Linked DNA regions of Homo sapiens: region 1 is linked to region 2. A link means that fine-mapping ties the variant in region 2 to the plasma level of a protein whose gene starts in the linked region. Region 2 holds a variant in brackets. A gene starts in the other region. All regions are shown on one strand. Distances are from middle to middle.

The links. A credible set is the group of variants that fine-mapping cannot tell apart. PIP is the chance, under the fine-mapping model, that this variant and not a neighbour inherited with it causes the effect. The UK Biobank Pharma Proteomics Project read protein levels with antibody pairs (Olink). The fine-mapping took linkage between variants from a reference panel, not from the people measured, so its PIPs are less certain.
Region 1: it holds the start of HBQ1, and the variant in region 2 is the best candidate, but not a certain one, in a credible set for the plasma level of the HBQ1 protein (UK Biobank, PIP 0.65).

The regions. Positions count from the first base shown.
Region 1 is chr16:178,857-186,856 of GRCh38, reverse strand. It overlaps HBQ1 (hemoglobin subunit theta 1), which reads right to left and starts at 6,398. Exons shown (of 3, transcript NM_005331.5): 1 at 6,276-6,398; 2 at 5,987-6,191; 3 at 5,678-5,877. The coding sequence starts at 6,370. The coding sequence ends at 5,749. RefSeq lists a silencer at 5,278-5,627 and an enhancer at 5,638-5,897.
Region 2 is chr16:72,036,960-72,053,628 of GRCh38, reverse strand. No RefSeq gene overlaps it. Among named protein-coding and RNA genes, the nearest start is that of HP, 9.2 kb to the left of the region's middle. The variant CA/A (reference allele first, on the strand shown) is at 8,538.

The DNA of each region.
Region 1 (8,000 bases), 72 Mb after region 2:
TGTTCCCCCCGTGTCGCTGTTCCCCCCGTGTCGCTGTTCCCCCCGTGTCGCTGTTCCCCCCGTGTCGCTGTTCCCCCCGTGTCGCTGTTCCCCCCGTGTCGCTGTTCCCCCCGTGTCGCTGTTCCCCCCGTGTCGCTGTTCCCCCCGTGTCGCTGTTCCCCCCGTGTCGCTGTTCCCCCCGTGTCGCTGTTCCCCCCGTGTCGCTGTTCCCCCCGTGTCGCTGTTCCCCCCGTGTCGCTGTTCCCCCCGTGTCGCTGTTCCCCCCGTGTCGCTGTTCCCCCCGTGTCGCTGTTCCCCCCGTGTCGCTGTTCCCCCCGTGTCGCTGTTCCCCCCGTGTCGCTGTTCCCCCCGTGTCGCTGTTCCCCCCGTGTCGCTGTTCCCCCCGTGTCGCTGTTCCCCCCGTGTCGCTGTTCCCCCCGTGTCGCTGTTCCCCCCGTGTCGCTGTTCCCCCCGTGTCGCTGTTCCCCCCGTGTCGCTGTTCCCCCCGTGTCGCTGTTCCCCCCGTGTCGCTGTTCCCCCCGTGTCGCTGTTCCCCCCGTGTCGCTGTTCCCCCCGTGTCGCTGTTCCCCCCGTGTCGCTGTTCCCCCCGTGTCGCTGTTCCCCCCGTGTCGCTGTTCCCCCCGTGTCGCTGTTCCCCCCGTGTCGCTGTTCCCCCCGTGTCGCTGTTCCCCCCGTGTCGCTGTTCCCCCCGTGTCGCTGTTCCCCCCGTGTCGCTGTTCCCCCCGTGTCGCTGTTCCCCCCGTGTCGCTGTTCCCCCCGTGTCGCTGTTCCCCCCGTGTCGCTGTTCCCCCCGTGTCGCTGTTCCCTCCGTGTCCGTATTCCTCCCGTGTCCGTATTCCTTACCTGCACCTTTTCCTGCAGGTGGGACTCAGGGTACTTGTTCAGCACATGTGCTTTCCTCTTCGTCTTCTAGGAGGGAGTGGTTGGGTCTGGGCTCCCTGTTCCCAAGCCCACGTTGTGTTCATGGCTGTGGCTGCCTGGGTGATGAGTGTGAGTTTGCACCTGGGTTTCCCTGGGCCTTAAGCAGACAGCGTCACCCTCAGAGCCATCACCACTGTGAATCATTTGGATCTTTTTCCATCTGGGCATAAAATTGTATGTGTAGACAAATAGTTGTTTTTTGCTTTTTTGGGTGGGGGGGGTCAGGGTGTGGGGTTTACAGAAAAGGTGCTGTGCCCCTGGCCATCCTGTCCCCCGTGTCTGCTGATTACAGCTGAAGGACAGGTCCTCCTGGGATGCAGCATCAGTGTCCTCGGCCGCCCCTGGTAGCCTCCGGGGCACCATCCGTGCAGGGAGAGGCGCTCCTGCCTCTCTACCGTGCAGGGACAGTCGGGTGGGCTTTTGGTACACCTGCCAGGTGGTGCTGACCAAACTGAGCTTCATGCCCCCGGTGCAGTTTCGCTGATAGCACCCACAACAGCTCTTCCTTTCTCCCTCCTCCCTCCCTCCTCCCAAATAACCCACACCAGGTTCTGCTGTCAGAGTCTGCGATAGGAGTCCCATGTTTTCACTTTTTTCACCCAGTACAGCGAGTCCTTCCTTTCCACTGCAGTACCAGTAAATCTCGCCAAAGATGGCTACTCGGAGATATATGGGTCTGGAAGTGTATCCCTCCCATGTGAAGGGGTCTGTAGTGTCAGGTGGAACCGGCCCTTGTCTCCACCCACAGGGACCACCTTGGCCTGCAGCCCAGACTGCAGGAGAACAGAAGAGAAGGGGGCCTCTCCAGAACATTTGGCGATTAAAAAAAAACTTTTTTTTTTTTTTTTTGAGACGGAGTCTCGCTCTGTCTCCTAGGCTAGAGCGCGGTGATGCAGTCTCGGCTCACTGCACCCTCTGCCTCAGCCTCCCGACTAGCTGGGAATACAGGGGCCCGCCACCATGCCCGGCTAATTGTTGTATTTTTAGTAGAGACAACGTTTCACCATCTTGGCCAGGCTGGTCTTGGACTCCTGACCTCGTGATCCACCCGCCTTGACCTCCCAAAGTGCTGGGATCACAGGCGTAAGCCACGGCACCTGGCCAAAATTATTTATTTATTTTTTTTGAGACGATGCTTGCTTTGTCACCCATGCTGGAGTGCAGTGTTGTAGTCATGGCTTACTGCAGCCTTGAACTCCTGGACTTAAGTGATCCTCCTGCCCCAGCCTCCAAGTAACTGGGACATAGGTGTGCACTACCACACTTGGCTAATTTTTTATGTTTTTGTGGAGACAGGTCTCACTATGTTGCTCAGGATATTCTTGGGAACTCCTGGGCTCAAGCAGTCTTCCCACCTCAGCCTCTCAAAGCACTAGGATTACAGGTGTGTCACCACAGCTGGCAGTGATTTTTTTAAAGGTAAATGGCTCTGTTTGGTGGGTGCTGTCGGCGCCAAACTAGCTGGATGGGCTGTGCCTTGTACCACCTTTGCCTCCTGCACAGGGTTACCTTGGGCTTGGGGAGCGCATGGGCCTTGACCGAAGCCCTGAGTGGGTTAAGGGTAGTCCTGGGGGGAGGAGAGGAGGATGCGGAGGCCGTTTCCTACCCCAGTGTGCAGCCGTCATGGGACAGGCAGGTGCTGGAGCAGGCCGAGGACCCCTATCTGGGGTGGCATCCTTTGGGGGAGGGGTGGCAGCCTGGAGCCAGAACCACGTTGGCCAGGATGGAACTTTTTTTTTTTTTTTTTTGAGACGGAGTCTCGCTTTTGTCACCCAGGCTAGAATGCAGTGGCGCAAACTCGGCTCACTGCAAGCTCCGCCTCCCTGGTTCACGCCATTCTCCTGCCTCAGCCTCCCGAATAGCTGGGACTACAGGCGCCCGCTATCACGCCCGGCCAATTTTTTGTGTGTTTTTTTTAGTAGAGACGGGGTTGCACTGTGTTAGCCAGGATGGTCTCAATCTCGTGACCTTATGATTTGCCCGCCTCGGCCTCCCAAAGTGCTGGGATTATAGGCGTGAGCCACCGCGCCCAGCCAGGATGGAACATTTTTTATTATAGTAAAGTGCACACAAAACGTGCCGTTATAACAGTTTTTCAGTGTACAGTTCAGTGGCACGACGTGTATCTACATTGTTGTGCAGCCTTCACCACCACCTGTGTAGGAGTGGCTTTGAAAAGGCAGAGTATGGCCAGGCGCGGTGGCTTACATCTGCAATCCCAGCACTTTGGGAGGCCAAGGCAGGTGGATCACAAGGTTAAGAAATTGAGACCATCCTGGCCAACATGGTGAAACCCCGTCTCTACTAAAAATATAAAAATGAGCCAGGCGTGGCAGGCACCTGTAATCCCAGCTACTCAGGAGGCTGAGGCAGGAGATTCGCTTGAACCCGGGAGGTGGAGATTGCAGCGAGTTGAGATTGCACCACTGCACTCCAGCCTGGGTGACAGAGCAAGACTCCATCTCAAAAAAAAAAAAAAAAAAAAAAGGCAGAGTGCAAATTCCCCTGGACTTGAGTGGGCATGAGTCTCCCCAACAGTGTGGAGGGCCCACAGCTGCTCCCCCTGCTCCCTTGGATCTGCACCTCTGGGTAGGTTCTGTACCAAGTGGGCTGAGCCCTTGAGCCAGGGCCAGCTCCCTCCAACCTCCACATCTCCAGGGAGGATGCGGTCTGGCTCTTCCACCTTCAGTGATGCTCCAGATGTAATCCCAGGAGGGTGTCCACACCTAGTTACAGGAGTCTGAGAGCCTGGTGCTTCCTCAGGGCCCCTGAGCCTCCTGGGCTCCAAGTGCTTGCTCCTGTGCGCGAAGTTGCAGCAGCCGCAGGTCCTGTGCTCTGGGAGCACACAGGATGATTGAGGTGAGACTGACTCGAGCTACCCCAAGGATAGAAACTAGAACGTGGATCCAAGAGGGGGCTCACGGGTGGGCTAGGGGCCAGATTTTTTCTTTTCTTTTTTTTTTTTTTTGTTTGAGACAGTCTCGCTCTGTCGCAAAGCTGGAGTGCAGTGGTGCAATCTCAGCTCACTCCAACCTCCGACTCTGGTTCAAGTGATTCTCCTGTCTCAGCCTCCCGAGTAGCTGGGAGTACAGGCATGCACCACCACACCCAGTTAGTTTTTATATTTTTAGTAGAAACGGGGTTTCACCATGTTGGCCAGGCTGGTCTTAAACTCCTGACCTCAGGTGATCTACCGGCCTCTGCTTCCCAAAGTGCTGGGATTACAGGCGTGAGCCACCATGCCCCGCCCGGAGATCTAATGTAGTAGAGATAATAACCTTTATCTGCCACATGTAGCAAATATTTTCTCTGGCTCTTCCCCCCGCCCCCTCCTCTTTTTTTTTTTTTTGAGACGGAGTCTCGCTCTGTCGCTCAGGCTGGAGTGCAATGGTGTGATCTCGGCTCACCGCAACCTCCGCCTCCCGGGTTCAAGCCATCCTCCTGCCTCAGCCTCCTGAAGTTGGGATTACAGGCGCCCGCACCACACCCAGCTAATTTTTATTTTTATTTTTATTTTTTCTGAGACGGAGTCTCACTCTGTCGCCCAGGCTGGAGTGCAGTGGCGCAATCTTGGCTCACTGCAGGCTCCGCCTCCGGGGTTCACGCCATTCTCCTGCCGCAGCCTCCCGAGTAGCTGGGAATGCAGGCGCCCGCCACCACCCCCAGCTATTTTTTTGTATTTTTAGTAGAGACGGGGTTTCACAGTGTTAGCCAGGATGGTCTCGATCTCCTGACCTCGTGATCCGCCCGCCTCGGCCTCCCGGAGTGCTGGGATTACAGGCGTGAGCCACCGCGCCCGGCCTGTCCACTTTTCCTCAGTGTCACCTTGAGAATACCATTTCTGAGGAAAAGCATCTCTACATGTGCCTAGAAGACTGGAACAGCTACGCATCAAATGTTAGGGGTGTGGATGAGGCCTGCCTCTACCCCGTGTGTGTGTGTGTGTGTGTGTGGCATGTCTGTGTTACACATGTGCTCTTGGATATGACAGCCATGTCCTGTTCTTGTTTACACATGACACAGTTTGCCGCGTGTCAAGCGGCAGCTGAAGGATGTGCTGCACCCATTCCTGGACCTGGGATACACAGGAAGGTGCAGCAAGCCTTGTTTTCGGAAGTTCTACAATGACCATGATTGGTTTTATGTGGACAAATATAAAAAAGCTTCACTCTCCGTAGTGATGTCGGGTGACGGCAGGGGTCTGGGTCGGTTCCTGGTCCACCTCGCCAGCTACGTGGCTAGGTGCTGGGGCTGGTCCCACCTCCTTCACCACAACCCCCCGGCACCCCAGGTCCCCGATTCCAGGCCACAGCCGCGGCGGCTGGGTGCTGCGCAGGTACCGGCTCGCGCCGGGAGGGGGCGCTGTTCCCTAACCTGCTCCGAGTCAGCCCCGGGCCCTTAACGCCGCCCGCGTGCGTTCACGCTGCAGGTGCGGAGTTCTCGCGGTGGGTCCGGGCCGCGTGCTCGGCGCAGAGTGGGGAGGGCGAAGCCAGCCGCCCTCGGGATGGGCAGAGTCGGCCGTCCTCGCAGCCCGCCGCCCGGGGCGTCCCGCGGCCCTCACCTACCACCCCATTCGGGAGGGTCAGGCTGCACGCAGTTCGGTGCCCCCATGGCCGAGGCCCCAAACCTGCTGGAGGTGGAAAGAGGCGCGCCTGGATCTGGGCACTGGGGGTGTGCCCCAGGCCCTCGCCTTTCCTTGGGGAGGGGCGGCGCCTTCCTCTCGCGTCCTGACCTCGAGAGAGCACGGCAAGAAGGCTGCTCCTGGGAGAGGCTTTACTCAAACACGGGGAAGGTCGCCTGGGGATCCCGCGGCCACCCACCCACAGTTCAGCGGTACTCGGAAACCAGCGCCGAGATAACGTGGCTCAGGAACTTGTCCAGCGACGCCTGCAGCGCGGGGCTGAAGTCTCCGGGGTAGTGCCGGGCGAGGGTTACCAGCAGGCAGTGGCCCAGGAGCTGCGGCGAGCGCTCAAGGCTCACTCGCCTGCACCCGCCCCGCACGCCCCCCGCACCCACCCCGCCGGGGCCCTCCCGGGGACAGGGGCCCAGCACGGCAGCCGCTCACCTGGAAGCTGGCCGGGTCCACTCGCAGCTGGCACGCGTGCAGGTGGCTCAGCGCGGACAGCGCGTGGGGTAGGTCGTCCAGGCGCTCCACGGCGAGGCTCAGCGCGTCCGCCACCTTCTGGCCGTGGGCTCTGACTTGTGAGGAGCCGGGGCTCAGGTCCAGGTGGGAGAAGTAGGTCTTCGTGGCGGGGAAAGCCAGGAAGGTCCTGCGAGAGGAACGTGGGTGAGGCGCGTCCGGGGGGCTTGGGGAGGGAGGGCCCCTGGGGGCGGGGGCGCCCAGCCTGCCGCACCTTTCCAGGGCCTCTGTCGTGTAGACGCCGACGTTGCTGCCCAGCTTCTTCCACAGGGCGCGCACCAGCGCCCGGTCCTCCGCGGACAGCGCCATCCCCGCGCTGGAACCCGCCGCGCCCTGCGACCCCGCTGCGCCTGCGCGGACCGGCCAGGGGTCCCGCGGCCTCCAGGGGGCGCCGCGCCGCAGCTTCGCCGCCCGGGGGTCCAGGGCCTCGTCGGAGATCCCGGGACCGCGCGCGCTCAATCTCCGACAGCTCCGACCGGGGCCCTCTGAATCGCCCTGGATCCAAGGCCCCCCGTCTTAGGTGTTCACTATATGGTATTTAGTCTCTACTAAAAACACAAAAATTGGCCGGGTGCGGTGAGTGCAGTGGCGCCATTCCGGCTCACTGCAACCTCCGCCTCCCGGGTTCAAACGATTCTCCTGCCTCAGCCTCCCGAGTAACTGGGATCACAGGTGCATGCCACCATGCCAATTTTGTATTTTTAGTAGAGACAGGGTTTCACCGTGTTAGGCTGATCTCAAACTCCCGACCTCAGGTGATCCTCCCGCCTCAGCCTCCCAAAGTTCTGGGATTACAGGCGTGAACCACCGCGCCCGGCCATGTACATTATTATAGCACTGAATTTCGGCATGGATTTGGCATTGGAAGTCAGTTTATTCTGCCTCTTGATTCTATTGTGACACTTGCCCGAGTCTGTTTTCTCATTTATTATATAAAATGAGGGTGACAGTTTCTTCTCAGATTGTGAGAATTAAACGGATAACAACTGTGAGGTGCCTGACTCGTAGCAGGTGTTTCTTCAGGGCAGTGAACATTTATTGAGTACCTGGGATGTAACCCAAGAATAATAGTAAATGCATATGCAGCACTCACTCTGCTGTACCCCTTATATCTTTTTTGTTTTAAAAAAGGTGATAAAATAGACATAAATTACCATTGTAGCCATTTTTCAGGTATAAAATTTGGTGATATTAAGAACACTTAGTGTTATGCAGCCATCACCACTATCTAGGTCAGAACTTTTTCATCATCCCAAACGCCACCTCGGTACTCATTAACAGTAACTCTGGCCCCGGCAGCCACTAATCCGCTTTTGGTCCCTATGGATTTGGCTGTAGCGGATATTGCATATAGATGGGGTCATGCAGTTTGTGACCTTTGGTGTCCGGCTTCTTTTACTTGTCAAATATTTTCAGGGTGCAGCTACATCCTATCAGTGCTTCATTTCTTTTTGTGGCCAAATAATATTCCATTGTGTGTATAGACCACCACATTTTGTTTACCCATTCATCTACTGATGTATAATTTTTATAATTTTTTTTGAGATGGAGTTTTGCTCTTGTTGCCCAGGCTAGAGTGCAATGGTGTGATCTCGGGTCACTGCAACCTCTGCCTCCTGGGTTCAAGTGATTCTCCTACCTCAACCTCCCGAGTAGCTGGGATTACAGGCGTGCGCCACCACACCCGGCTAATTTTTTGTATTTTTAGTAGAGATGGGGTTTCCCCATATTGGCCAGGCTGGTCTCGAATTCCTGACCTTGTGATCTGCCCACCTTGGCTTCCCAAAGTGCTGGGATTACAGGCGTGAGCCACTGTGCCCAACCACCGTGCTAATTTTTAAATTAAATTAAATTAGATTAAATTTTTTTTTGAGACAGAGTTTCGCTCTTGTTGCCCAAGCTGGAGTGCGATGGCGCGATCTTGACTCACTACAACCTC
Region 2 (16,669 bases):
AGTATGATGGCAGTCTTCTAGAGATCAAAACCAAGTAAAACTTGGCAATGGATTCTTAGATAATGACACCAAAATCACCAGCAATCAAAGAAAAATTAGATAAATTGGGCTTCATCGGAATGAACATTTGTGTATCAAAAGACAGTATTAATAAAATGAAGACAGGCCAGGCGTGGTGGCTCACGCCTGTAATCCCAGCACTTCGGGAGGCTGAGGTGGGCGGATCATGAGGTCAGGAGTTTGAGACCAGCCTGACCAATGTGGTGAAATTCCATCTCTACTAAAAATACAAAAATTAGCCAGGCATGGTGGCGCATGCTTTAATCCCAGCTACTCGGAGGCTGAGGCAGGAGAATTGCTTGAACCTGGGAGGCAGAGGTTGCAGTGAGCCTAGATCGCACCACTGCACTCCAGCCTGGGTGACAGAACAAGACTCTGTCTCAAAAAAAAAAGTGAAGACAGTCTACAGAATGGGAGAAAATATTTGCAAATTCTATATCTGATAAAGGGTTGTTATCCAGAGCATATCCTAACTACAACAACAAAAAGACAAACAATTAAAGCATGGGCAAAGGATTTAAATAGACATTTCTCCAAAAAATATACATAAAGTGCCAAAAAGCACATAAAAGATACTCAAGGCTGGGGAGTGACTCACACCTGTAATCCCAGCACCTTGGGAGGCCGAGGTGGGTGGATCACCTGAGGCCGGAAGTTTGAGACCAGTCTAACCAATACGAATATGGTGAAACCCCATATTTTCTAAAAATGCAAAAATTAGTCAGGCGTGGTGGCATGCATCTGCAGTCCCAGCTACTACTTGGGAGGCTGAGACAGGAGAATTGCTTGAACCTGGGAGGCAGAGTTTGCAGTGAGCTGAGATCGCACCACTGCACTCCAGCCTGGGCAACAGAGCGAGACGTCGTCAAAAAAAAAAAAAAAAAAGTCACTCAACACCATTGGAAAATGTCAATAGGGAAATTTGCAAATCAATACCACAATGAAACACCACTTCACACCTACTAGGATGGCTACAAATTTGTGTGTGTGTGTGTGTGTGAGAGAGAAATGTTGGCAAGGATGTGGAAGAGTTAGAACCCTGGTACATTACCTTGCTAGTAAGAATGTAAAATGGTGCAGTTGCTGTAGAAAACAGTTTTATCGTTCCTCAAAAAGCTAAGCATAGAATTGCCATCTGACCCAGCAATTCCACTTCAGGGTATACACCCAAAGAATTAAAATCAGAGACTCAGAGACGTGTACACCAATGTTCATAGCAGCATTTTCACAGTATCCAAAAGGTAGAAGCAATCCAAGCGTCCATCCACAGACAAATGGATAAACAAACTGTGATATCTACATACAATGGAATATTATTCACGTATAAAAAGGAATGAAGTTGATACGTGCTACAACATGAATAAACCTTGAAAACATACTAAGTGAAAGAAGCCAGACATAAAGGGACAAATATTACTTGATTCCACTTATAATAAAGTATCTAGAGAATAGGCAAATGCATAGAAGAAAAAGTAGGTTAGACTTTACTAGGGGCTGGGAGAAGCAAGAAATGGGAAGTGATTGCTTAATGGGTACAGAGTTCCTGTTTGGGGTGATGAAAAAATTTTGGAAACTGATAGTGGTGATGGTTGCACAACATTGCTGGTGTAATAAATGCTGCCGAATTGTACACTTCAGAATGGTTAAAATCGGAAATTTTATGTTACAAATATTTTAGCACAAAAAATTCAAGAAGTAAATAAGTAAACTTATTTTTATTGGAGAAAGAGAAAGAAAGAGAAGGAAGGAAAGAAAGAAAGAAAAAGAAGAGAGAAAAGGAAGGAAGAAAGAGAAAGAAAGAAGACTCAGCAGTATGTTGTTCAGGCATAGATATCAAAGAGTCAAAACTGTATTTTTAAATTTCTTGTTGGAATGGAAAACCCAAAATGTAAAATGTTACATCTCAAGAGGAGGTAGGAGGAAGGCATAAGAGAAAGACACTTAGGTAAATATAAATAAATTGTTAATGACCCAGCTTTTGGGCTGGGTAGTAGGTTCATTAACGTACATTATATTATTGTGCTTTATTTTTAATAAAACACATATATGCCCACACATATATGTCACATATAATATATTATAAGTATCAAATAAAATATTTTAAAATATTAAGGAGGAGGGAGTCACCCGAAGGACATAGTGAGAGGCCCCTTTTCCATGAATTGGATCCAACAGGTGTGTGTGGGGATGTGAGAATCTACATTTCAAGCGTCCATAACTTCTCCCCAGCCCTGCAGGTATGAGGCAATAGACTGCAGCTCTTCAGTCATAAGTAGGAGCCCATTTCTCCACCCCTGGAATCTGGGGTTGGCTCTGTGACTATGTTGAAATAGTAGCAGATGTAACAAGGATAGTCTTGAAACATGCTTGTGAATTGGGGTTTGACTGCTTTTACAGCACCCGGAATCTGGGGGCTACCCTGTGAATGAGCCCAAGTTATTCCTCCATTGCTGGAGAATGAAAGGTCCCCATAGAGTGGAACCCAGGCATTCCAGCTGACAGACAGCCAGCCCCAAATTTCCAGAAGTCCTCCACAGATGCATGAGTGAGCTCCTGCCAAGATCAGCTGAAACTGATCCTGACCAAAACCACCTCCAGCTAAGCCCAGCCCACATTGCTGACCCACAGAATCATAAGCTAAATAGAAGATGACTGTCCTAAGCTACAAAGCGTGAGGAACACTCATAGGTAGCAGATGTTAACCAGTAGAACTGGTGTGTGCAATGATGGAAATGGAGCTGCTCTGGCTGAATCTGGGGTGAAGGTGTTAGAATTCTGCTCCCTAGGTCCCTGGGTTCCTGCTATCCTCTGTCACAGCTTGTCTTTACCTGTGCTTTGCCACCCAGGTCTTCCTTCAATGGCCAGAAGGAGGGAGCTACACCCTACGTTTTCCAAAGAGAACCCGCACTGTAGACTGTGAAGGATTCCACTAAACCTGGAGCACTTCTGTCCTATGGCATCCTCATGCCCTCCTCCCCCTCCCACCTCATCCAGTCCATCATCCCTCCCCACAGAAACTGTCAAATCTCAGCCTCTCACAGTCCTCTATCTAGAGTCTTGCAAATGTCACAGCCCCAGGCTTCTTTTTTCTTTTCTGTCCAGTTGCTGCTACTTTTCCACAGAGGGAAGAGATGGCCTCTATTTCTGCAGCTCTGTGGGTCCTCAGGGAAGTGGGGAGAATGCTGGTCCTATGAAATGGAGGGAGAGACTTCCTCCTCAGACTGGTGCCCTCCTAGGGTGTCTAAAATGAAACATTTCTCACCACTTTTGTAGAACAATTGTTTACTCACCAGGTACGTGAAAATTCACGTTCCTCCTCTGAACATACCCTGAACTCTATTACTCTGACCCCTTGTCTTGGGCAACAGGGGAGCATTCACACACAGCCTTCCTGCCCTGGGCATCTTTCATTAACTTGAGGAGAAACAGAATCCAGCCCAAAAGGCTTCTCTCTATCACTGGACAAGTCAAGATGGGAGATAGCAAGTCAGAAGACTCCACCAAGGAAAGTAGGCATATATTTTCTTGGGAGAATAGAAAGCAGGAAAGCTTGAAATATTAATAGGCCAGGACAGCAGTTGACAGAGGAGCTTGAAGGGGAGAGTTTTGATTTTAGAAGGAAAATATGATTTTTAAAAGTTCACTCTGCCAGCCAGGCATAGTGGCTCATGCCTGTAATCCCAGTGCTTTGGGAGGCCAAGGCGGGTCGATTGCTTGAGCCCAAGAGTTGGAGACCATATGGAATAAAATGGGCAACATGGTAAAACTCCGTCTCTACAGAAAATACGTAAAAAATTATCCAAGAACAGTGGCACATGCCTGTAGTCCCAGCTACTCTGGAGGCTGAGGTGGGAGGATTGCTTGCACCTGGGAGTTGAGGCTGTAGTGAGCTATGATCATGCCACTGCACTTCAGCCTGGGTGACAGTGAGACCCTGTCTCAAAAAAACAAAAAGTTTACTCTGCCATTACAAAAGTCTTGAAATTTTATAAGCTACCAAAAAATAAAAATAAGAAATAAGTCTCCGATAATTTCACCACCTCAAGACAACCAATAACCACTATTAACATTTTAGTGTTACTTCCTTTCAGATTTTCTCTGTGCATACTTTTACACAATTTTGATCATTCTTTATATAGAATTTTTTGGCCTAACCTTTTCATCTGTTAGAAATGCAAAATGCTTGTTCCCCAGTGCCATAAAGAAATAGCACTTGAACATAAATTTAATTCTCTCAGCAAGGCAATTTTTACTTTCTGCAGAAAGGGTGCCCATCACAGATGGAACAAAGACAAGAGCACACTTGAACAAAGGAGGTACAAAACATTTATATCTGACCCATCCAGACCCTACTGCTGTGTCCTGATTCCATTGGCTGGAACTGGACCTGACAGTCTAGGCAGCACCCAGTTGGCTAAAGGTTTAAAACTTTTTCTAAAGAGGTAATGGCAGAGGAGAAGAAAGGAAAAGAGGAAGTTGCTTATGAAAAGACTCAGAAAAGTAATAACATTCCCAAATAAGGAAGGGGCATAGGCTGCAAGCTGTGACATGCCTGTGCACAGGTCTAGCACAGATATCTTGGTTAAAGTACAGGGACATAGAATGTATTTAATTTTCTTACATTTAATAACTACATAGGATAGGGCTTAACAAAGAGTTATTAGCACAAAGCAAGGAAGTTTGAAGGAAGTTAGTTTTTAAAAGAAACTATTATCTCTAACACTTATGATTTATTCTTTAACAAGAAGGGAAATTTTGAAGAGGAACTTTTTGCTTTCTACATCACCCAATGTTGTAGGCATTTTCCATGTTGTAGAAAACTCTTAAAACATTTTAGGCCAGGCACGGTGGCTCACACCTGTAATCCCAGCACTTTGGGAGGCCGTGGCAGGCAGATCACGAGGTCAGGAGTTTGAGACCAGGCTGACCAACATGGTGAAACCCCATCCTACTAAAAATACAAAAATTAGCCAGGTGTGATGGCGTGCGCCTGTAATCCCAGCTACTCAGGAGGCTGAGGCAGGAGAATCACTTGAACCTGGGGGGCGGAGGTTGCAGTGAGCCAAGATCGCGCCACTGCACTCCAGCCTGGGTGACAGAGCGAGACTCTGTCTCAAAAAAAAAAAAAAAAAAAAAAATCTTAAATGCTATATTATACTCCTAACTTAAGGAGGTATCACATGTACTTTAATTTTACTGTTATAAATAGCTTGCATACACACAGGGAAGTGAGGTAAGGAGACCACACTCATTTTACTCCATTTGGATGTACAATTGATCCAGCATCATTTACTAAAAATACCAAACCTTAAGTGTTCATCTCAATGAATCTTTATAGTATGAAATATTTCTAGCACCCCAGAAAACTCCTTTGGGTTCCTCTCAGCCCACACCCCACCCCTACCAAAGTAACCACTGTCCTGACATCTGTCATGATGGAATACTTTTGCCTGGTCCTGAACTTTGTATAAATAGAATCAAATAGTAGGCATTCTTGGTTTCTGGCTTGTTTTTTCAACATAATGTCTGTGAGAAACATCCATGTTGTCACATTAGTTTCTTTTTTTATTGCTGAGAAGTATTCCATTGTGTGACTAAAGCACAATTGATTTATCCATTCTCCTGTAGATGGATGTGTGGATTGATTCCATCCGGGGGCTACTGCAAACCAAGCTGCTATGAACATTCTTGCATATATTGTTTGGTGGTTACCTGCATTCATTTCTCTTGGATACGTACCTGGTTTTGTCATAGGGTAGGCATATGTCTAGCTTTAATAGATTCTACCAGTTTTTCAATAAACTCTCCTATCATCAGTATATCAAAGTTCCAGTTGCTCTGCATCCTTGCCAATACTTTTTAAGTTTTGCCATTCTGCATATGTGTAGTAAAACATAATAATGGAGGCCAGGCACAGTGGCTCACGCCTGTAATCCTAGCACTTTGGGAGGCCAAGGCAGGTGGATCACCTGAGGTCAGGAGTTCGAGACCAGCCTGGCCAACACAGCGAAACCCCGTCTCTACTAAAAATACAAAAATCAGCCGGGTGTGGTGGCATGGGCCTGTAGTCCCAGCTACTCAGGAGACTGAGGCAGGAGAATCGTTTGAACCTGGGGGCAGAGGTTGCAGTGAACTGAGATCGCACCACTGCACTTCAGCCTGGGGGAAAGAGCAAGACTCCATCTCAAAAAATAAATAAATAAATAAAAATAATAATAATGGCTTTAATTTTGCATTTCCCCAATATCAAATGATGTAGACCACTTTTTAGATTTGTGTTGGACCACTTAGATATCCTCTTTACAGTATGTCTTCTCCTTGTAGATTTGTTGTCTTTTTCTAAAATATTCTGAATACTAGTCTTTTTTTGGATAAATGTATTGTAAACATGTTCTCCCATTCCATGGTTTGTCCTTTAATTCTTTTAATCTTGTATTTTGATGAACAGAAGTACAGAAGTTCTTAATCTTAAATAAGTCCTAATTTGTCAGTTTTTTAAATTTCATAGTTAGTGATTTCTGTGTTCTGATTAAGAAATTTTTGCCTACAAGGTTGTGACAATATTCTCCTATATGTTTTTCTAAAAGTGTATTGTTTTACCTTTCAAATCTAGGTCTATGATCCATTTGGAATTAATGTTGGTATAGGATGTGAGAGAAAAGTTCATTTTTTCCATATAGGCATGCAATCGATCCAGTATTATTTGCTAAAATGACCATCCTTTGTCCCTGAATTCCAGTGGTATCTTTATTATACATCAGGTGATTATATATGTGTTGGCCTCCTCCTGAATCCTCTATTCTTTTCCATTAGTCTATTTGTCTAATCTGGAGCCATTGTCATACTGTCTTAATAATGTGTGAAAGGAGGTTGGGTGCGGTGGCTCACGCCTGTAATCCCAGCATTTTGGGAGGCCGAGGCGGGTGGATCACGAGGTCAGGAGATCGAGATCATTCTGGCCAACATGGTGAAACCCCATCCCTACTAAAGTACAAAAAATTAGCTGGGCATGGTGGCGGGCGCCTGTAGTCCCAGCTACTCGGAGGCTGAGGCAGGGGAATCGCTTGAACCCGGAAGGCGGAAGTTGCAGTGAGCTGAGATCGCGCCACTGCACTCCAGCCTGGGCGACAGAACGAGATTCTGTCTCAAAAAATAAAAATAAAAAAATAAATAATAATAATAATAATAATAATAATAATGTGTGAAAGGAAACTATCTTAAACCCCCAGAATCACTAAGCTAAAGGGAAAAGTGAAGCAGAGAACTGCTTAGGGCAAACCTGCCTCCCATTCTATTCAATGCCACCCCTCTGCTCACTGAGATAAATGCATATCCTTTTGCCTCTTTTGGAGAGGCTCATCAGAACCTCAAAAGAATGTAACCATTTGTCTCTTATCTACCTATGACCTGGAAGCCCCCTCCTGGCTTTGAGACTTGTCCCGCCTCTGCGGACGGAACCAGTGTTCATCTTACGTATGTTGATTGATGTCTCAGGTCTCCCTAAAATGTATAAAACCAAACTGTGCTCTGACCGCCTTGGACATATATCAGGACCTCCTGAGGTTGTGTTGGGTGTGCGTCCTCAACCTTGGCAAAATAAGCTTTCTAAATTAACCGAAACCTGTCTCAAATTTTGGGGGTTCACAAATGGGAACTTTTTTTGAGACAGGGTCTCACTGTCCCCCAGGCAGGAGTGCAGGGACACAATCTGCAGCCTCAACAATGATCTCCAACAATCCTCCCACCTCAGCCTCACAGGTAACTGAGACTACAGGTATGCGCAACCACACACAGCCAACTTGTTGTTGTTGTAGTTGTAGAGATGTGGTTTTGCCATGTTGACCAGGCTGGACTTGAACTCTTGGGCTCAAGTGATCCACCCACCTCAGCTTCCTAAAGTGCTGGCATTACAGGCATGAGCCTCCACACCTGGCCAATAATGGGAACTTTATACTAAATCTTGCTATCTGGTATTATAAGTGTTCCAACTTTATTTTCTTTCAGAGTTTGTCTTGACTATTCTAGGTCTTTTCCATTTTATGTAAATTTTAAAATCAACTTTCCAATTCTCACAAAATGTCCTGATGGGATTTTTATTGGGATTACATTGAATCTCCAGATCACTTTGGGGAGAGTTGACATCTTGACTCTGTTGAGTCTTTCGAGTAATGCACGTAGCATCTCTCTTCATTTATTTAGGCTGTCTTTAATTTTAATGCCTTGTTCATATTGATACAGACCTCTGGCACCTCTTTCATTAGATTTATTCTTAAGCATTTGATGTTTATGTTATTGTAAATGATATTTTTTAATTGATTTAAATAGTATAGGAATAAATACCTCAGTAGCCATGAAATGAGAACCCTGGATTTTCACAAGAGTATACATGACCTTCAAACAGAATGGAGAGTGGACTGTTGAATTCAGAACAGCACATGTTGTTCAGAATTGCAGTTTATCTTGATAAGAAAATTAAA[CA/A]AAGACATTCACATGATTACACCTATTTCTAGAATTTCTCCTTTTTTTCACAGTCACCAGGACCAGGGGCTACAGGGTCCCACGGTGCCTGGAACATAGGCATTGCTTCCCAGTTGCACTGCCTTACGGTCAGCAATTCTCTTCTCCAAAACTGAGCCACTGGCAGACACACATATTGATATTTTGTACCATACACATTGATATTTTAAGCTTTTTAAGAGCTTCTTAAAAGTAGGATCATCCCTGACAGTTTGTAAATGAGGAACTTCCAAGATCCAGGCTGCTAAATCAAATATTATCCTCAGACCAGCTTCCTGTCAGCAAAGACAGCCAACCAAGGTGGGAAACCCACACAGCCTGTCAAAACTTACAAAGAAATGCTGCCTTTCCCAGCATGAAACTGGTCAGATGTCAAAGGCATGAGGATATTAGTACGAGTGTAAAAACTGACTCTATATTCAAAAGAATTCATATCAACCTTCCTTAATTTCTTCAACCTACCACGTTTGTGGGATGGGTCCCAGGAAACAAGGTAGGACCAAGTCGGTGTTTTTTCATTCACCCTTATCTCCATGGCCCAGCAATGCCTGGCATACAACAGAGGCTCAGTCCGGTTGGTTGAATTGAATGGGGGATAAACATAGCCTCTGCCTTCAAAGAGTTCAGAATAGGGGCAGAAATAAAAACTGTAACACGAGTAAGTAATGCCTGTATTGTCATCTTCTGTCTGCAGTGGAGAAGATCCAGCCCTCAGAAGCATAAAAGCTGTCCGCAGAACCAGCCCTGCAGGTACTTTAGGAGAAAAGCCAGTCAACTCCTAGTAATAACAGGTAACATTGGGAGGGTTCTGTGTGCCAGGCACTGTGCTATGTGCTTTCTGTGTATTTACTCATTTAATTCTTCAACAGCCCATAAGCATTGGGTCTTTTTATTATCTAATAATCCCGTTTTTTATAAATGGGGCACAGAGAGGATAAGGAACTTGTTCAAGGTAACACAGCTAGCAAAGAGAGGAGCCAGGATTCAAACCCAGGCCAAGCCCTTGACCACCCTGGGGTGCTACCTCTCCCACATGACAAACTACACAGAATTCTCAAGACTCCCTCACATGTGCTGGGCACAGTGGCTCATGCCTATAATCCCAGCACTTGGGAGGACATGCTGGAGGATTGCTTGAAGCCAAGAGTTCAAGGTGAGCCTGGGCAACATAGGGAGATCCATCTCTACAAAAATAAAAAAATAAGAAGTTAGCCAGGCATAGTGGTATGCACCTATAGTTCCAGCTACTCAGGGGACTGAGTGGGGAGGATCACTTGAGCCTGGGAGAGGCTGCAGTGAGCTCTGATTGCGCCACTGTACTCCAGCCTGGGCAACAGATCAAGACCCTGTCTCAAAAATAAAATAAAAAAGATTCCCTCACATAATCAGCATCAAGGGCTCACCATTAGAGTCACTTTTAAGGGTCATCTGGAGACAGATCTTTCACTGGGTTAAGGCATTTCTTACCTGGAAGGGATAACAAACTTGCTAGCTAACCACATTAGCCAGGCTAAGGGTGTCAATTGTACATGGCTATGGAGGCCCATTAAGAACCTTGTGTATCAGATTTAAACCATGACTGAGGCAGTGATGCCCAGCAAAGAGGATAAGGAGGACCTTAAAGCACTGGCACCCAAGGCTGGAGAAGCCTGAGGCTGCAAAGAATTGAAGGTTTTCTCCAAGCATGACCCCTGTGTTGGCCTTGGGGGCCCTGGAGCAGTCTGAAACCATGTGGACCATGGCTGGGAAGCACGTTAGGAAACAGATCAAGTAAACTACCTGACAAAGCATTTGGGCAAGAGTGCCCTGGGTGCCAGCCAGATGCAGAGAGGAGTTGAACCATGCACCCTGGTCATAGGACAGATCTTCAGAAGGAATGGAATTTAAATGGAGCTCTGCTTTTCAGCAGTCAGTGCAAGAAATCAGGGACTTGCATAAACTTGCCAAGCCGCAAAGCAAATCCCCTTCCACTGAAGAGGTGCTGGGCTTGTCGTAGGATGTGACCCACTGGATGCTGGCAGGCGGTTCTTCTGAGAGACTGAGAGATGCTGGAAAACTCAGCATCTCAGTGAATGACTGGAAGAACAAGGGAGTAAAAGAACATGAAGGTGGGCCACCCTATTCACACACACACACCTATGTGTGTATAGATATTTGTATATATGTGTTTTTATTTTTAAATGATTCTGTCAGGGTCTCAGATAGAGGTGAAATTCTAACCTACTCAGAGTGATTTCTTTTAGGTTCCCAGACCTGGGATCCACATTTTTTGCTCTACTGAGGTAGGAAGGTGTCACTAGATCCATTAAGAACTGCAAATTCAACATCTGTGAGAATGGTTGAAGCTCAAAAGACTGGCCAGCTTCTCAAATACCCAGTGACTGAAATACGTAACTGGCCAGCTTCTCAAATAGCCAAGGCAGTGCCAAGGTTACTACTCAGGAGAATGTCTTCCATGTGCCTGGGGCAGACAGGAAGTGTTCTGACCCTCTGCCCACAGCTTTGTTCCTGTACCCACCAACTCAAGTGATTAATGGGGTGGCAGGTGGTGCAGCAGCCAAGTGACCTTCACACACTGTAACTCCTTTTGTTTCCTATGGGACACTTTCCAGATGGGGTTTTCAGCACTCAGGAAACCTCTTTGTGGCTGGCAGTAATGCAAGAAGTGCAGTGTTTATCCATTTCCTCTCCTGAAGCCCTGCCCTTTGGAGCCTCGTCCTTGTATTGCTGCCCAGGTATTTCACAAATTCCAGATCATTCCCACACTGTTCCTGCACACACAGCGCTATGCCCTGTCCCCTGCTGTCCTCTTGCATGTGACAAGCCACAGTGACTTTATTTCCTATGTGTCTAACCACAAGGCTCTTACAGAAATTTTCCCTGGCTGCCAAGACTCATTCAACATCATAGGTGGCCCAGACTAGAGGGTAGGTAACATTATCATCTCAGAATGTTCTTATGGTGTGTTGGGACCGGAGGTCTGTACCTGGAGGAAAAAGAGAAATCCTGAAACATGTTTTAGCCAAGTAGTAAGCACATAACATCTCTTCCAAGCAAATATAAAACTATAGTAGACCTCAATCTGTCTTCTTTATTAGCTAGGATTAAATTTGACTAAGTGACTTAACAGGGATTAAAGCACACAAGGTCCCAGCCTGGGCAACAGAGTGAAACCCCATGCCTACAAAAAATACAAAAATTAGCCAGGTGTGGTGGCACACACCTGTAGTCCCAGATGCTCTGGAGGCTGAGGTGGGAGGATCACTTGAGCCCAGGAGATTGAGGCTGCAGTGAGCCATGATCATGCCAGTGTACTCCAGCCTGGGTGACAGAGCAAGTGAGACCTCGTCTAAAAAATTTTTTTTTAATTTTTAATTACACACACACACACACATACACAAGGTTCTGTTTTCTCAAGTAAAAGAGGTAGGGAAGTAGGCAGACAGAGCTGGTATTAGTGTCAGCATTAAGCTGTTTCCAGCTTTTGCCTCCATCATCCCTGCAGAATGACCCTGATCCTTAGGTCTAAAATGGATGCCAGAGCTCCAGCCATCATACCCATATTCCAGGCAGCAGCAGACTTTCCAGAAACTTCACACAATACTTTCATATATATGTCATTGAATAGAACTTGGTCACTGGACCACATCCAACTATACTGGAAATCAGGAAATGTCTTTATGCTGGGAATCCAGAACATGGAACCATTGATATGGTTTGGCTGTGTCCCCACCAAAATCTTATCTTGAATTGTAGTTCCCATAATCCCCACATGTCATGGAAGGGACCTGGTGGAAGGTAATTGAATCAGGGGGCAGTTATCCTCATGCTGTTCTCATGATAGTGAGTTCTCATGAGATCTGATGGTTTTATAAGGGGCTTTCCCCCGACCTTCACTCTGCACTTCTCAGTCTGCCGCCATGTGAAGAAGAACATGTTTGCTTCCCCCTTCCACCATGATTGTAAGTTTCCTGAGAACTCCCCAGCCATGCTGAACTGTGAGTCAATTAAACCTCTTTCCTTTATAAATTACCCAGTCTCAGGTATGTCTTTATTAGCAGCATGAGAATAGACTAAAACAGCCATCTACAAGATAACTGGACTGATCTCATGAGAGGTTACTGTTCTAGATTAAAAGAAACTAGCTGGGTGCGGTGGCTCAATGCCTGTAATCCCAGCACTTTGGCAGGCCAAGGTGGGCGGATCACCTGAGGTCAGGAGTTTGAGACCAGCTGGCCAGCATGGTGAAACCCTGTCTCTACTAAAAATACAAAAAAAATTAGCTGGGTGTGGTGGCAGCCGCCTGTAATCCCAGCTACTCGGGAAGCTGAGGCAGGAGAATCGCTTGAACCCAGGAGGTGGAGGTTGCAGTGAGCAGAGATTGCGCATTGCACTCCAGCCTGGGCAACAGAGTGAGACTCCCTCTCAAAAAAAAAAAAAAAAAATAGGCCGGGCACAGTGGCTCATGCCTGTAATCCCAGCACTCTGGGAGGCCAAGGCTGGTGGATCATGAGGTCAGGAGATCAAGACCATCCTGGCTAACACAGTGAAACCCCATCTCTACTAAAAAATACAAAAAATTAGCCAGGCGTAGTGGCAGGCGCCTGTAGTCCCAGCTACTCGGGAGGCTGAGGCAGAAGAGTGGCGTGAACGCAGGAGGCGGAGCTTGCAGTGAGCCGAGATCGCTCCACTGCACTCCAGCCTGGGCAACAGAGCGAGACTCCGTCTCAAAAAATAAAAATAAATAAAATAAAATAAAAGAAATAAAAGAAACTAAAGAGGCATATGGATGAGCGTTGATTGGATATGGAAGATATTTTGGATACAACAGGAGAAATTTGAACACGAACTCAGTGTTAGATGATATTAGCAAATCATGGTTAATTCTCTTATGTGTGATTATAGACTTATGGTTACATAGGAGCATGTACTTAGATAATGCAGGTTACAAAGTACTTAGGAGTGAATCAAAATACACAATAAAAATAGGTTAAAAGATTGGCAGAGCCAACAGGGAAAAGATAGTAAGAATTACTGAGTGTAGGTGGAAGGAGTATGGATATCTATTATACTATTCTTTCTGATTTTCTGTATATCTAAATTTTCTTTTTTTTGAGACAGAGTCTTGCTCTGTCACCCAGGCTGGAGTGCAGTGGCACAATCCTGGCTCAGTGTAGCCTCTGCCTCCCAGGTTCAAGCAATTCTCCTGCCTCAGACTCCTGAGTAGCTGGGACTACAGACATACACCACCATGCTTGGCTGTTATTTGTTTTTTTAGTAGAGACAGGGTTCCCCATGTTGCCTAGACTGGTCTAGAACTCCTGGCCTCAAGTGATCAGCCCATCTTGGCCTCCCTAAGTGCTGAGATTACAGGCATGAGCCACCATGCCCAGCCTAAAATTCCTTATAATACAAATTACAGGAGGGTAATTATCTATTTGGGCTGACTGTTCCTCAGCTTTCTCATGTGAGGCCGATGGCCTCCTGGTGAAAATGAGTGAGGTTCCTGGCAGTATTCTGGAACCAGTCAACACAAAGGGTCTGAGGAGTGGGTTGAAGCCCATGGTCTCAGCCAAGATGGATCTCAGAGCTTGTGGATGTGGGGAGAGAAAGCTGCCCTCCAGCCGCAGCTTCTCCAATAGTCTTCTGTCATCACCCAGCACTGCTGCGAGGATCCACAAATCCCATCACTTATGTGAGATAACAACATGGCAGAAGACAGAAAATGAATCTAAGACATCTTATATAGTGGAGACATCAGTACTCTGTCAGGACATGACTGGGTGGAGTAGAACAAATGCCAGACTTGAGATTAGGGGAATTTGTTGTCCCCTCCACCATTTCTGCCCATATCACCTTGGAGCAGGTGCTTAATCTGTTTCCTCGCCTGTAAAATGGGGATTGTAATTGCCACCCTCACCTACTCCACAGAGCTGTCTGAGGCTCAAATAAGATAATGTGTGTGATTTCTGGAAAATGTGCAAGACCATTTGGAAGAAAACCTTCTTGTCCCTGAACTACTGCTTCATCCTGTTAGGCTCGCATACAATTATCCACAGACCCCAGAACCAGGTGAACTTTTCCAAAACCCTGCTTGTGGTGGCTGAAAAATATCTCCACAAATTATTGGACATTCCTCCCTTCAAAAGTGGAAGCCCTTCCCTTGAGTGGTGGGCTGGACTAAATGACTTGCTTCTAACATAGGGTTGCCAGAGAAAATATATGATACCCAATGAAATTTGAGTTCAGATAAACAACAAATAAATTTTAGAATAAGTATGTCCTGAATACTGCATGGGATAGACGATAGACTTATACTAAAAGTGTATTCATTGTTTATCTCAAATTCAAATTTAACTGGGCATCCTTTTGTTTTAGTTTTGCTTAAACTAGCAACTCTATTCCAATGTGTAGAATGAGGCTGGGCACAGTAGCTCATGCTTGTAATCCTAGCACTTTGGAAGGCCAAGACTGGAGGATCACTGGAACCCAGGAGTTCGAGACCAGCCTGGGCAACATAGTAAGATCCAATCTCTACAAAAAATACAAAACTTAGGGAGCCCTAGTGGCACGTGCCTGTAGTCCCAGCTACTCAGGAGGCTGAGGTGGGAGGATTGCTTGAGCCTGGGAGGTTGCGGTGAGCCGTGATCATGCCGTTGCACTCCAGCCTGGGTGACAGAGCAAGACCCTGTCTCCATAAATAAAATTAGAATGAATGTGGCATAAGTAATGATGTGTGACTTCCAAGACTAGGTCATAAAGGCACTGTAGCTTCCACCTTGCTCCCTCTTAGATCACTCACGCTGGAGGAGCTGGATGCCATGTTGTGAGAACACTCAAGCAGCCCTATGGAGAGGTTCACCTACACTTCCTGCCAACAGCTTGCATCGGGAGGAGATGTTCATACCCTGGGGGCTCCAGTTCTATTGAATCCTGGCCGTATGGTTTAGGGAAGTTATTTAATCTCTCAAAGCCTTTGTTTTATCTGTAACTATGGGTATACTAATATCTATTTTCAGGACCCATTTGTGATAATCAGAAATATAAAAATAATAGCTAACATTTATTAGAAATTTAGAATATGCTAAGCACTATTCTAAGCACTTCACATTTAATCCGTGTAGTAACCCTCTGAGATCGGTGCTGTCCTTATTCCCATTTTACACATTGGGAAACTGAGGCACACAAAATTTACATGATCACCCACAGCTAATAAGTACATAATCTGATGGGCACATAACATGCATCCTTTTTTTTTTTTTTTTTTTGAGACAGAGTCTTGCTCTTGTTGCCCAGGATGGAGTGCAATGGCCTAATCTCGGCTCACTGCAAACTTCTGCCCCCTGGGTTCAAGTGATTCTCCTGCCTCAGCCTCCCGAGTAGCTGGGATTACAGGCGTGCACCACCATGCGCAGCTAATTTTTGTATATTTTGTAGAGATGGGTTTTCGCCATGTTGCCCAGGCTGGCCTCGAACTCCTAAGCTCAAGCAGTCCTCCCGCCTTGGCCTCCCAAAGTGCTGGGATTACAGGCTTGAGCCACTGCGCCCAGCCTGCATCCTTTTATTTTTTTTGAGACAGAGTCTTGCTCTGTCGCTCAGGCTGGAGTGAAGTGGCGCCATCTTGGCTCACTGCAACCTCCACCTCTCAGGTTCAAATGATTCTCCTACCGCAGCCTCCCGAGTTGCTGGGACTAGATATAGGTGCACACCACCATGCCCGGCTAATTTTTGTATTTTTAGTAGAGATGGGGTTTCGCCATGTTGCCCAGGCTGGTCTCAAAATTCTGGCCTCAAGTAATCTGCCCACCTCAGCCTCTCAAAGTGCTGGGATTACAGGTGTGAGCCACCATGCCTGGCCAATATTTATCTTTTTAAAAGTTGCTGTTGAGGCTGGGCACGGTGGCTCACACCTGTAATCCCAGCACTTTGGGAGGCCGAGGTGGCGGATCACTTCAGGTCAGGAGTTGGAGACCAGCCTGGCCAACATGGTGAAACCCCATCTCTACTAAAAATACAAAAAATTAGCTGGGCGTGGTGGTGAGCGCCTGTAATCCTAGCTACTCTGGAGGCTGAGGTGGGAGAATCGCTGGAA